Regions from separate parts of the Homo sapiens genome. Here region 1 is linked to region 2. The links come from fine-mapping of genetic effects on gene expression. A gene starts in region 2. The other region holds a variant in brackets. All regions are shown on one strand. Distances are from middle to middle.

Evidence for each region. PIP is the estimated chance that this variant, and not a neighbour inherited with it, causes the effect.
Region 1: its variant is the best candidate, but not a certain one, in a credible set for the expression of GLRX3 in putamen (GTEx, PIP 0.61).

Annotation. Positions count from the first base shown.
Region 1 is chr10:130,181,632-130,186,997 of GRCh38, forward strand. LOC124902561 reads left to right here. Exons shown (of 2, transcript XM_047426136.1): 2 at 2,237-5,366. Among named protein-coding and RNA genes, the nearest start is that of GLRX3, 48 kb to the left of the region's middle. The variant G/A (reference allele first, on the strand shown) is at 2,264.
Region 2 is chr10:130,134,173-130,139,538 of GRCh38, forward strand. It overlaps GLRX3 (glutaredoxin 3), which reads left to right and starts at 2,219. Exons shown (of 11, transcript NM_006541.5): 1 at 2,219-2,340. The coding sequence starts at 2,249. LOC105378561 (a long non-coding RNA gene) reads right to left here and starts at 2,199. Exons shown (of 6, transcript XR_001747659.2): 1 at 1-2,199. RefSeq lists a silencer at 2,201-2,800 and enhancers at 3,001-3,050, 3,329-3,964, 3,965-4,599.

The sequences.
Region 1 (5,366 bases), 47 kb after region 2:
TCCTAATCTGATTTTATTAGTGTATTTTAGGAAGTAAAGTAAGATTCTTGAGCCCAGCTGAACTTCCCCTATTGAATTTTCTAACAAAAAGAGAGTTTGCGTATGGGTTTATAATTGAGCCTGCTCTTGTAGAAATGTTTTATCAGAATTGAAATCCTCTCTGATCCCCAAATTCTAGAGACAAAGTTGTTTTCTGAATTTGAGAAATCTGTTCAGTTCACAAGGAAAGGTGACAATGTGTCATTTGGATGTTGTCCCACACGTGAGGCCTCGTTGGGTGCTTGTGGTGGGAGGGACCCTCCAGGCAGGCTTTGTATGGAGGGTTTTCATGTCTGGACACATTTCTGTTCCGAGAAGCACTGCTGCGTTTTTGGGAGCGTGGACCCTGGCCAGAGCCTGTGGCCAGCTCTGCCTGCCCTCCCTTTCTTGGCCTGCTCTTTTGAGTATGTAGTGGGGCTTTGTGTGGCATCCTGCCAGGTTAAAGCTGCATGGTGCTTAGGATAGAGCTGGTGCTGTGGGGAGGCTCTTGATGATGGGGGCTGCCATCTATTTGCCTGTTAACTCTTAGAAACCAAACCTCAAATGTCAGAATTTCCTTTCTAGAAGAGGCTGGTTGAATAGGAACCAGAAAGGCCCTCATACAGGCAGGGCTGTTCACTCCTCTTGACTTGCGTGTTTGTGCCTTCCTTGTAGGAAGGCTTCTTAGGGAATTGTTATCTGTTTAGGGGAAATAAGCCTGCAGGAATGAACTTTTTTTTAAAATAAAAACTCTTGATCAAAAATGGAAAGAAAAAAACCAGTGAAACAGGCTAGGTAGTTTGTGGAATTCTCCTTTGCAGGTGAGGGGAGAAAGCAGCTATCTCAAGGGCACAGCTACAGATTGGGAGCTGGGGCTTCCATCCAGGGTCTGGGACACCCAAACCTTAGGCTTGCCCCTCCCGGGAGGCCTCCCCCTCAGAGCTATGTGGGATGCAGTTGCCTTTTTACCTGTGATGAGAAACTGGTGAATTGCCAGGATTCTGGCTCTGGCTTCAGTCTGCCCCTTTCCGGGGATTAGAGGGCATTAACCCTACTTCCTACAGCCAAGCAGCTCTTCCTCATGACTCTACTTTCTAACTCCGGGGGTTGACTGATTGATTTGAAGACCGCCTTGTTGATGAATGTGTTGAAACTTGCTATCATAATGTAAATGCTCCTTAATAAAATAACAGGACCTGGTGGGTTCAGTTGCCTTGCCCACGTGTGACTTACATGTTTTTGCCTTTTTTTGTTGAACACTGAGCCTTGCAGAACCATCAGGAAGTCCACCTTGGTCCCACTGGATTGATCATTAAGAAGGAAGGAAAAAAGTTATTTGCCATTTCCGTTCTTTACAAAAATGTCTTAAGTCTGCTGAGGAGTAGACTAAAAAATAGCATGTTTTTATAATTAGAAAGCCTCATTTTAATAACTTAAAAATGTTTAATCTCTGAAACAACTGTAATACATTTTAAGCGCTTGGTAATCATTATCTGCCTTATTGGAAAGAATTATACAAATAAGACCTATCTTGACAGTCAAAAGTTACAAGCTTAAGATTGCAATATGAAACATGATTTCTGGTTTAGTTTTTAAAGTAAAATCAGCTTTCTTTTCCTTTGTTTTTTGAGACAGGGTCTCCTCTGTCACCCAGGCTGGAGTGCAGTGGTGCAGTCATGGCTCACGGCATCCTTGACCTCCCAGGCTCAAGATCCTCCCCCGTCAGCCTCCTCAGTAGCTGAGATGACAGGCATGTGCCACCATGCCCGGCTGTGTTTTGATTTTTTTTTTTTGTAGAGATGAAGTCTCACTATGTTGCCCAGGCTGGTCTCAATCTCCTGGGCTCAAGTGATCCTCCCACCTCAGCCTCCCAAAGTGTTGGGATTACAGGCCCTAGCCACCATGCCTGACCTAAGATCAGTTTTCTTAAATTTGACAGTTGCTACTTTTCAAAATTCAAACCTTTCTAAATAAAAGTAAGTTGATTATTTGCAGATGAATTCTTGTTTTATACACATTTCAGATGTTGAGTTTGAGGACCTAGACCCTTCCCTTTTTGTCTAGTCACATTTCCTCACGGCCGTCCACTGATCGTTGAATCAGCGTAAATATGGACAGTTTCTCTTGAGTCTTTGGGTCTTCATTTCTGAAGGCTCCTGTGTCACGTAAGACTTAAATAAATCTTACGCTTTTCTCTTGTTAATCTCTTTTGTTATAGGAGTGTCGGCTGTGCCCCTTGTGATGG[G/A]TGAGGAAAGGTATCCACCTTTCTGAATCAGACACAAGCTGCAGTAGCTTCCTGATGCCTCATTCACCAGGATGGGTAACTTTAAAGACAAGTTTTATAACTGGCATCCCATCTGGTTTCAGAGTCTTGGGGGCTTTTTTCATACAGCTTTGTCTGATATTTAGAGACATTCAGATTCAGAAGCCATGAGTTCAGTTAGCTCATGGGCCGGGCACGTGCACTGACTCACTGGCTGCAGCAGAACACGTTGAGGGAGTCTTGGTGCACTTAGGTCACTGTAAGGTTCTAGGGCTGGGAGCTGGGATTTGAACCAGGATCTGTCAGCGCAGCCCCAGTGCTGTGCTTGAAGCCTCGTGCCACACTGGCTTTGAGGTAGCACGCTGCAAGTTAGTGAGTGGAGTTGCCCAAGTCTGGGGCTTCTGAAATGACCTGGTATTTTTATGTTCCTGTTAGAAATGGTGTGGCTTTCACAAATTAAGTGCCAGGCTGGGCACAATGGCTCGTGCTTGTAATCCCAGCACTTTGGGAGGCGGAGGCAGGCGGGTTGCTTGAGCTCCGGAGCTTGAGACCAGCCTGAGCAACATGGCGAAACCTCATATCTACAAAAAATAAAAAATTAACTGGTCATGGTGGTGTGCACCTGTAGTCCCAGCTACTTGGGGAGCTGAGATGGGAGGATTGCTTGAGCCCAGGAGGTCAAGGCTGCAGTGATCGTGCCATTGCACCCCAGCTTGGGTGACAAAATAAGAGCCTGTCTCAGAAAAAAAAAAAAAAACAAAAAAACCTAATTGCCAGGACCCGCAAATTCTGACTGAAAAAGACCTTCTTGTTCTCCCCACGGTCATTCATCTAAATGGTTGTCAGTGGTACAGTGTTCATCTTTTCTCAAAAAGTCAAGTTTTATTTGAGGAAGTTACAGATTTCCATATGAACTCCTAGAGAGAGAGCCTGCCCTTGTTCAGGGTTGCCCGGGGGATGCCTGCCATGTGGTAAGGTAAGGGTTTCTCTGCCCCTCATCTCCCAGCCTGCTGTCCCCAGGAGCGAGTTCCTTAACCCCTAGCCGTGTCGTTGAGCCCAAGCTTGTAACCTGGATATGGGAGCTGTCTATTTAGGAAGAAGGCATGTGTGGTAATTTCTAAAAGAATTAAAATAGATTTTTATGCTCTTGTATTATGTTTTGTGCTTAAAAGGAAGAGCCCCGATATAATGGAGAAAAGCCAGAAGGAGCTTGGATGCCCTCAGAGAGCCCTGTCACCTGTCTGTAGGGGCAGAAAGGAGGATGCCTTTCCTCACCCATCACAAGGGGCACAGCCAACACCTAGAATAGATTACCAAGGAAAAGTATAAAATGTATGTAAAGACTTAGGTGACACAGGAGCCTTCAGAAATAAAAACCCAAGAGAAACTGCATGTTCACACTCAGATTCAACGAAGAGTGGGTGGCTGTGCAGAAATGTGATTGGACAGAAGGGAAGGATCTAATCGTAGACTGGATGGGGAAGCCTTGCCCCGTGTGTAGCTTTCTTCCTTCCAGGTACAGGGCAGGGCCCTTCTGGAATGAAGGTCTGGGATCCATTTTCAGATAAAGTAGTGTTGAGGATGTCTTTGTGGCCGGCTCCTGTAGTGGACCTCAGATCCGGGTGCTCGCCAGTTACAGAGTCCAGTTGACAAGAGCAAGGTCTGGTAGAAAGAAAGTGACTATTAACCAGAACTAGTCATGGGGATATGGCTGGATTCCCACCCAAAGTAACTACTTTGAATTCTGGAGAGAAGGCAAGGGTTTAAGAAGTGGGGAGTAGGAGCTTGAGCTGGGAGGCGCGCAGGGATCGTGCTGAGTACAATGTGTGTCTTGTTCCGGCGGCTGTCCTGGGCCTCCGTCCACCTGGAGTGCGGGCTGGTGTCATCTCAACAAGTGGCCAGATTTGACTGCTCACCTTGAGGTAAGCTCTGGGATTTTGCAGCTGGGTTTCCACGCTTGGTCTGTCTCAAGATTAGTCCCTAGAACTTCGAAGTAAGCACGTAATTAGAGACTAGCTCACAGACACATGTGAAGAGAGTATACGGTGAGAAAGGGGAGGGGTATGGAGTCTATTTTAAGATTAAGGGAAAAGGCTTCTGCAGTTTGCTCTAAGGTTGCATCTCAGGACTAAAGAGAAAGGAAAAAAAAGTCTAAAAATGCATTTTGAAGTTAAGCTGCTCAGTTACACTCCTACACAAAGGCCAGGGAAAGTTAGAGTCATATTTCTAGTTTTTTTTTTTTTTTTTTTTGAGACAGAGTTTTGCTCTTGTCCCCCAGGCTGGAGTGCAGTGGCGCGATCTCGGCTCACTGCAACCTCTGCCTCCTGGGTTCAAGCGATTCTCCTGCCTCAGCCTCCACAGTAGCTGGGATTACAGGCGTGTGCCACCATGCCCGGCTAGTTTTTGTATTTTTAGTAGAGACGGGGTTTCGGCATGTTGGCCAGGTGGGTCTCAAACTCCTGACCTCAAGTGATCCGCCTGCCTCAGCCTCCCAAGTGCTGGGATTACAGGCGTGAGCCACAGAGCCTGGCCGTATTTCTAGGTTTTATGGCTGGCCTCGCAGGAGAGGGGTTCTGGTTTCTATGACCTGCACTGGGGAAGAGGCATTCTACTTTCCGTGGCCTACCTTGAGGGGTGGTGGGGTGCGGGCAAGGGAAGGGGCCAGAGGGTCAGAGAGCCCTTGCCTCTGAGGCCCTTCCGGTGTCCTGCAGTTCCTCAGTGTGCCAAAACCACAGGCCTTGGGGTATCATTTTCTGAGCCCCAGCATATCCCTCTATTTTGCCCTTAGGTCTGGAGGAAGGTTCCAGGGCATTTGCCCTTGGTGGGTGCAGGTAGGGAGGATCTGCGGGTCTTCCTCATGCCAGGAGTCTTATCCCAGAATCAAAGGCTCCTGGTGGGTAGGAGCGTGTCCCATGTGCAGCACGCTTGGCTGTCCGAAGTTGCTGATGAGAAGCAGCATAGGATCTGGCAGGGACGGTCCTGAGTGGAGAGGCTGAGATGGGAGGTGGTGGCCCACGGTTAGCGGGCTGGATTTTCTGGGGCAGCCTCCATGCCAGCATTTTGTCTTCATCCCGGAACCCTGTGC
Region 2 (5,366 bases):
GGTCTCCAACTCCTCGGCTCAAGTGATCCTCCTGTCTGGGGTTTCCAAATTGTTGGGATTACAGGTGTGAGTCAGAGCACCCAGCCAAGTTCTATACAATTTTATCATGTTTAGTTTGTGTTCTCACCACCACAGGCAAGATACAAAATGGTTCCTCATCACTCTCCTGTTGCATTTTAAATAACACAATTTACCGTGTTCAATACCATGTATTTCTCCAGGTGAGGTATACATGTGACAGGCTCCAAAAGGCTTTTAAACACCACAGTAGTGCTGCCCAAGAAAATTCAAGGGCCACGAATGAAAGTTGCCTATGAAATTAGACATTTCTCAGGAGCCAAAGGTAAAAGAGACCAATTTAAATAATATATTTCAGAAAACCGAATATATCCAAATATCCTCATTTCAACATGTAATCAATATAAAAAGTATGAATGATATGCTACTTTTCTCGTACGAAGTCTTTGCAATCCAGTGAGCCCAGTCCTCTGGCAGCTGTTAGCATGGACTGAGTACCTCCTATGTGTCTGACTCTGATCCAGGCACTGAGACACAGATCAGCTCCTGCCCTTTAAGAACACAGGCCAATGGAGGACAAGCACAGTTCTACAACATGAGACAGGCCACGGTAGAAGCAAGCAAAGGAGGCCTGGGAACACCTGGCTAGTAGGGAAGGCTCTGTGGGGGCTTGGCCTCAAAGCCCAGGGACAGCAGGGGGACCAGTCAGAAGGAGCCCCAAGTGTCTGGGTGGGAGCGATGGTGTTCCCTGAGATGGGAACCAAGAGGAGAGGCACTTTGGAGGGAAGGCCCAGTGTGGTTTGGGGATATCCAATAAAAGATGGCCCCTCCTCAAAGTTAGTGGATGCTAGGCTCTGGGATGCAGGGGAGGGTTCTGGGCTTGCTATTGAGGTTTCCCTGGAGGTTGATGTCACTGGGGGCATGGAGATTACTCAGGCCAGAAGGTGTGTGGGAAGCATGGGGTGTGGGGTACAGAGTACACCACATGGAGAGCCAACATCAGGGGGATTCCCAAGGGAGAAAGACAAGCCAGGGATCATCCAAGGAGGCAAGACGGGAGGAGTGCAGGGATCTGTGGACCCACCCAGCCCCTTCTGTTCTGAGGTTACAATGGGTGATGGCTCTGTGGGGCTGCAATGAGTGGCGGCACGCGCGGAGGGCCAGGGGAGGAGGGACATGCTGTGGGCTCCGGGTTCAGGTCCCAGGACTGAATTGGAAGCACCCTGTCTGTGTTGAAGTTCAAGATCTACCACTTCTGTTCCCAGACCTCCCAGTTCTTCCTCACCTTTATGCAATTTCATTTTTGATAATTTCAGCTTCCTAAATGTACACATCTGACTTCACTTTCACTCACATGTCTCACCCCCACCCCTCCACCGGCCCCTTCTATTACAGACCCAGGAGACACAGGAAGTGCAAGGAAGGTCTGGAGCCCCAAAAGCCAGGAGCCTCAGGAGTCAGGTGTCCTGACAGCCAGGAACCCTGACACCCAGGAGCCCTGGCACCCAGGAACCCCAACAGCCAGAAGCCTCTACCACCAGGAGCCCTGACAGCAAGGAACCCCGACACCCAGGAGCCCCTACTACAGCCAGGAAGCCAGGAACCCTAACACCAGGAGCCCTGACACCCAGTCACCCCGACAGCCAGGAAGCCAACAGCAAGAAGCCTCTACCACCAGGAGCCCTGACAGCAAGGAACCCCGACACCCAGGAGCCCCTGCTATAGCCAGGAACCCTAACACCCAGGAGCCCCTACAGTCAGGAACCCCGACACCCAGGGGTCCCGACAGCCAGGAACCCCGACACCCAGGGGTCCCGACAGCCAGGGGCCATTACGGCCAGGAGCCCCGACAGCCAGGGACCTCGACGGCCAGAATCCACTACATCCAGAAGCCCTTATAACCGGGAACCTCCATAGCCAGGAGCCCCTACAGCCAGGAGCCCCTTCAGCCAGGGAGCCCCGAAAGCCAGGAGCCCCGACAGCCAGGAACCATAACAGCCATGAACCCCGGGAGCCAGGAGGCCCGCAGCGGAGTGCCCAGACTTGGCAGGGTCAGAGCCCCCCAGCGGGATCCAGAGCCCGCCGCCGAGGCCCCTTTTGGGATTTCTCAGGCTCGGCAGCCTCAGCGCAGGCAGGGGCGGGGCTTTCCCTCGCGCAGCCGCTCAGCTCCCCGTGGCCCCGCCCACATCCGGCCGCCGGCACTGGATTGCTTCTGTCTGGCGGCGGCAGCATGGCGGCGGGGGCGGCTGAGGCAGCTGTAGCGGCCGTGGAGGAGGTCGGCTCAGCCGGGCAGTTTGAGGAGCTGCTGCGCCTCAAAGCCAAGTAAGCGGGGCGGCGAGCGGTAGGAGTGAGGAGCCGGAGCGGGAGCGGCCGCGAGACCGGGCCGGTGTGGGGCGGCGGGTGGCCCAGCCTGGCTTCTTGGTGCCCGGCTCCCTTCGGCCTCGGGGGACCGGGCCCGGCGCCACCCGTAGACTCCCCCGAGCCTCCGCGTGAGTGGCCCGAGCCGCAGGTTCCCCGCCCCGGAACAGCGAGCAGGGCGCGAGGCTCGCCTGGAAGCCCCGGCCCCAGCCCTGGCTCCGACCCCGACGGCTGTCCAAGCCCGGGGGACGCGACCTTCCCGGCCTCTGGCCTGGGCGGCCCCGCCGCGGGACGGAGGCGGTGGTGACTCAGCCGTGCCGCAGTGGCGGGGCGGGGGACGGGGCGGCGCCGAGACCCCGGCCCTCCGCGCCACGGAGCGGGACCCACGGCTGCGGGCTCCACCTTTCCTGTGCCCGCCGGGAGGGAGCGGCAGGCTCGGCGTCGGCCCATTGCTCTTCAGCCTCCCTTCAGGAACGCCCCTGTCGCAGGAAGAGCGGCGAGGGAAGGCCCCGTTGCATTAGCTAGGCCTGGCTGCCTTTTGAAGTCAGCCTTTAAAGTTTGTTGGACAGCAGGTAGCCTCAGTCTTCAGACTTAACCTGTTGCCGGAGACAGAGATTTCCTGTTCCATGAACTGGTGTAGTGAGAGTCTGTTCAGATTTGGCGCCGGTGTCCAGGTCTTCAATCCCTGGGAAGACTACAAAAGGAGATCCAGAGGAATGCATAGAAAGCGTTTTCTGGGTGGACTAGAAGCTCTGAACTGCAAGCATGCTTACGAGTAAATGCTTACTAGCGTGCGTGCCTGCAGGGAAAGGTCTGCACGTGGACTCTCCGTGATAATACCACCTCACATTGTAGACTACTCCAAGGACTGAGTTGTTCTCTTAGTTGTATTATTAGCGGTTGTTATGGGAACTCTTATGTCGGATTGCCTGGGATCCAGTCCCACCGCAGCCACTCAGTAGCCATGTAACCCCTGGGCACGTTTCATGCCCAAGCCTCAGTTTCCCGACGGTGACATAGATTAGCACCTGTTAGTACCTCAGGGTTGTTGTGAGGGTTAAATGAGATGACGTATGTAAAATACAAATAATACAATGCCTAGTATGCAGGAAGCACTCAGTAGATGTTGGCACTTAGTATTTCAGTAGGAAGTAGAATGGTTCATGGAATTCACAGGCAAAAAGCTTTGTTTTGTTTTGTTTTTGAGACAGGGTCTGGCTCTGTCACCCAGGCTGCAGTGTAGTGGAGCGATCACGGCTCCCTGCAGCCTCCGCCTCCCAGGCTCAAGTGATCGACCCACCTCATCCTCCCGAGTAGCTGGGACCACAGGTGCTCACCACCACGCCCGTCTAATTTTTATTTTTTTTTATAGAGACGAGGTCTCGCCATGTTGCCCAGCCTCGTCTCGACCTTCTGGACTCGAGCGATCTGCCCTCCTCAGCCTCCCAAAGGGTTGGGATTACAGGTGTGAGCTACCACGTCCGGCCAGAAATGCTTATTGATCTAAATTTTGTTTTGTTTGTTTTCGAGACAGGCTGTTGCTCTGTTGCCCAGGCTGAGTGCAGTGGCGTGATCTCGGCTCACTGCAGCCTCTACCTCCTGGGTTCAAGCGATCCTCCCACCTCAGCCTCCTGAGTATCTGGGACTACACGTGCGGTCCACCACGCTGGGCTAATTTGTGTATTTTTCGTAGAGGCAGGGTTTCCTCATGTTGCCCAGGCTGGTCTCTGGAACTCCTGAGCTCAAGTGATTCGCCTGCCTCGGCCTTGTAAAGTATCGGGATTACAGGCTTGAGCCCCCGTGACCTGCCCTGTTGATCTAAATTGAGTGAAATTTTGCCGACTGAATTTGAATTAGAGGCAAGTAGTACTCTGATTTTGCAATGGAGAGTGCAGGTGAGATGGGGTGTTGCCTTTGGAAATGGGGAGGGGTGCGAGTTACTGACTAATGGTTAGAAATGCTTTATGGGGGTGATGAAATTAAAGTGTTATTTAAACAGCTCTTTAGGCATTTCAGGTTTACCTGGGAAATTGTTACGGAAAAAAGCAGGGGTTGGGGAGGGACATGTGACATTTACTCACTGATGGAAGCTGGGCTCTGACTCATCCAGTACAGATCAGCACAATCACAGGAGTCACCAGAAGTGGCCTCTTGAAATGAGCAGGTCTTGTGTGGACCTGCCCTAAGTAAACGTTTTGAATTTACCATCACCTGAAAGGCTGTTTTGTCTGTTTTACATGTTTGTTTTAAATGCTTCATGTTTTAAAAAGTCCTTAAACTATCAAAATGAATAAAAGTGTTTTTTTTTTTTTTTTTTTTTGGGGGGGAGACAGAGTCTCTCTCTGTTGCCCAGGCTGGAGTAGAGTGCAGTGACACAATCTTGGCTCACTGCAACCTCTGCCTCACGGGTTCAAATGATTCTCCTGCCTCAGCCTTCTGAGTAGCTGGGATTACAGGTGCCCGCCACCACGCCTGGCTAATTTTTGCATTTTTAGTAGAGATGGGTTTCACCATGTTGGCCAGGCTGGTCTTGAACTCCTGACCTTAGGTGATGGGCCCGCTTCCCAGCGTGCTGGGATTACAGGCATGAGCCACTGCGCCCGGCCAAAATGGATAAAAGTTTAAATGTAAGTACCATTTGGATGTTGTATCCTTGCCGCTGGCCTGTACTTGAAATGGCCCAGGAAACAATGTGCACTTTCCTTAGTGACTAGTTCAAACGGACACGTGATAAATGATGTGTGGCATCTGGGGAAGGAGCACATTTCTGCAGCTTTTTTGGTGAAGATGGAGACATTTAAGAATATTAGGCCGGGCGCGGTGGCTCACGCCTGTAATCCCAGCACTTTGGGAGGCCGAGGTGGGTGGATCACGAGGTCAGGAGATCGAGACCATCCTGGCTAACACGGTGAAACCCCGTCTTTACTAAAGAAAATACAAAAAATTAGCCAGGCATGGTGGCAGGTGCCTGTAGTCCCAGTTACTCGGGA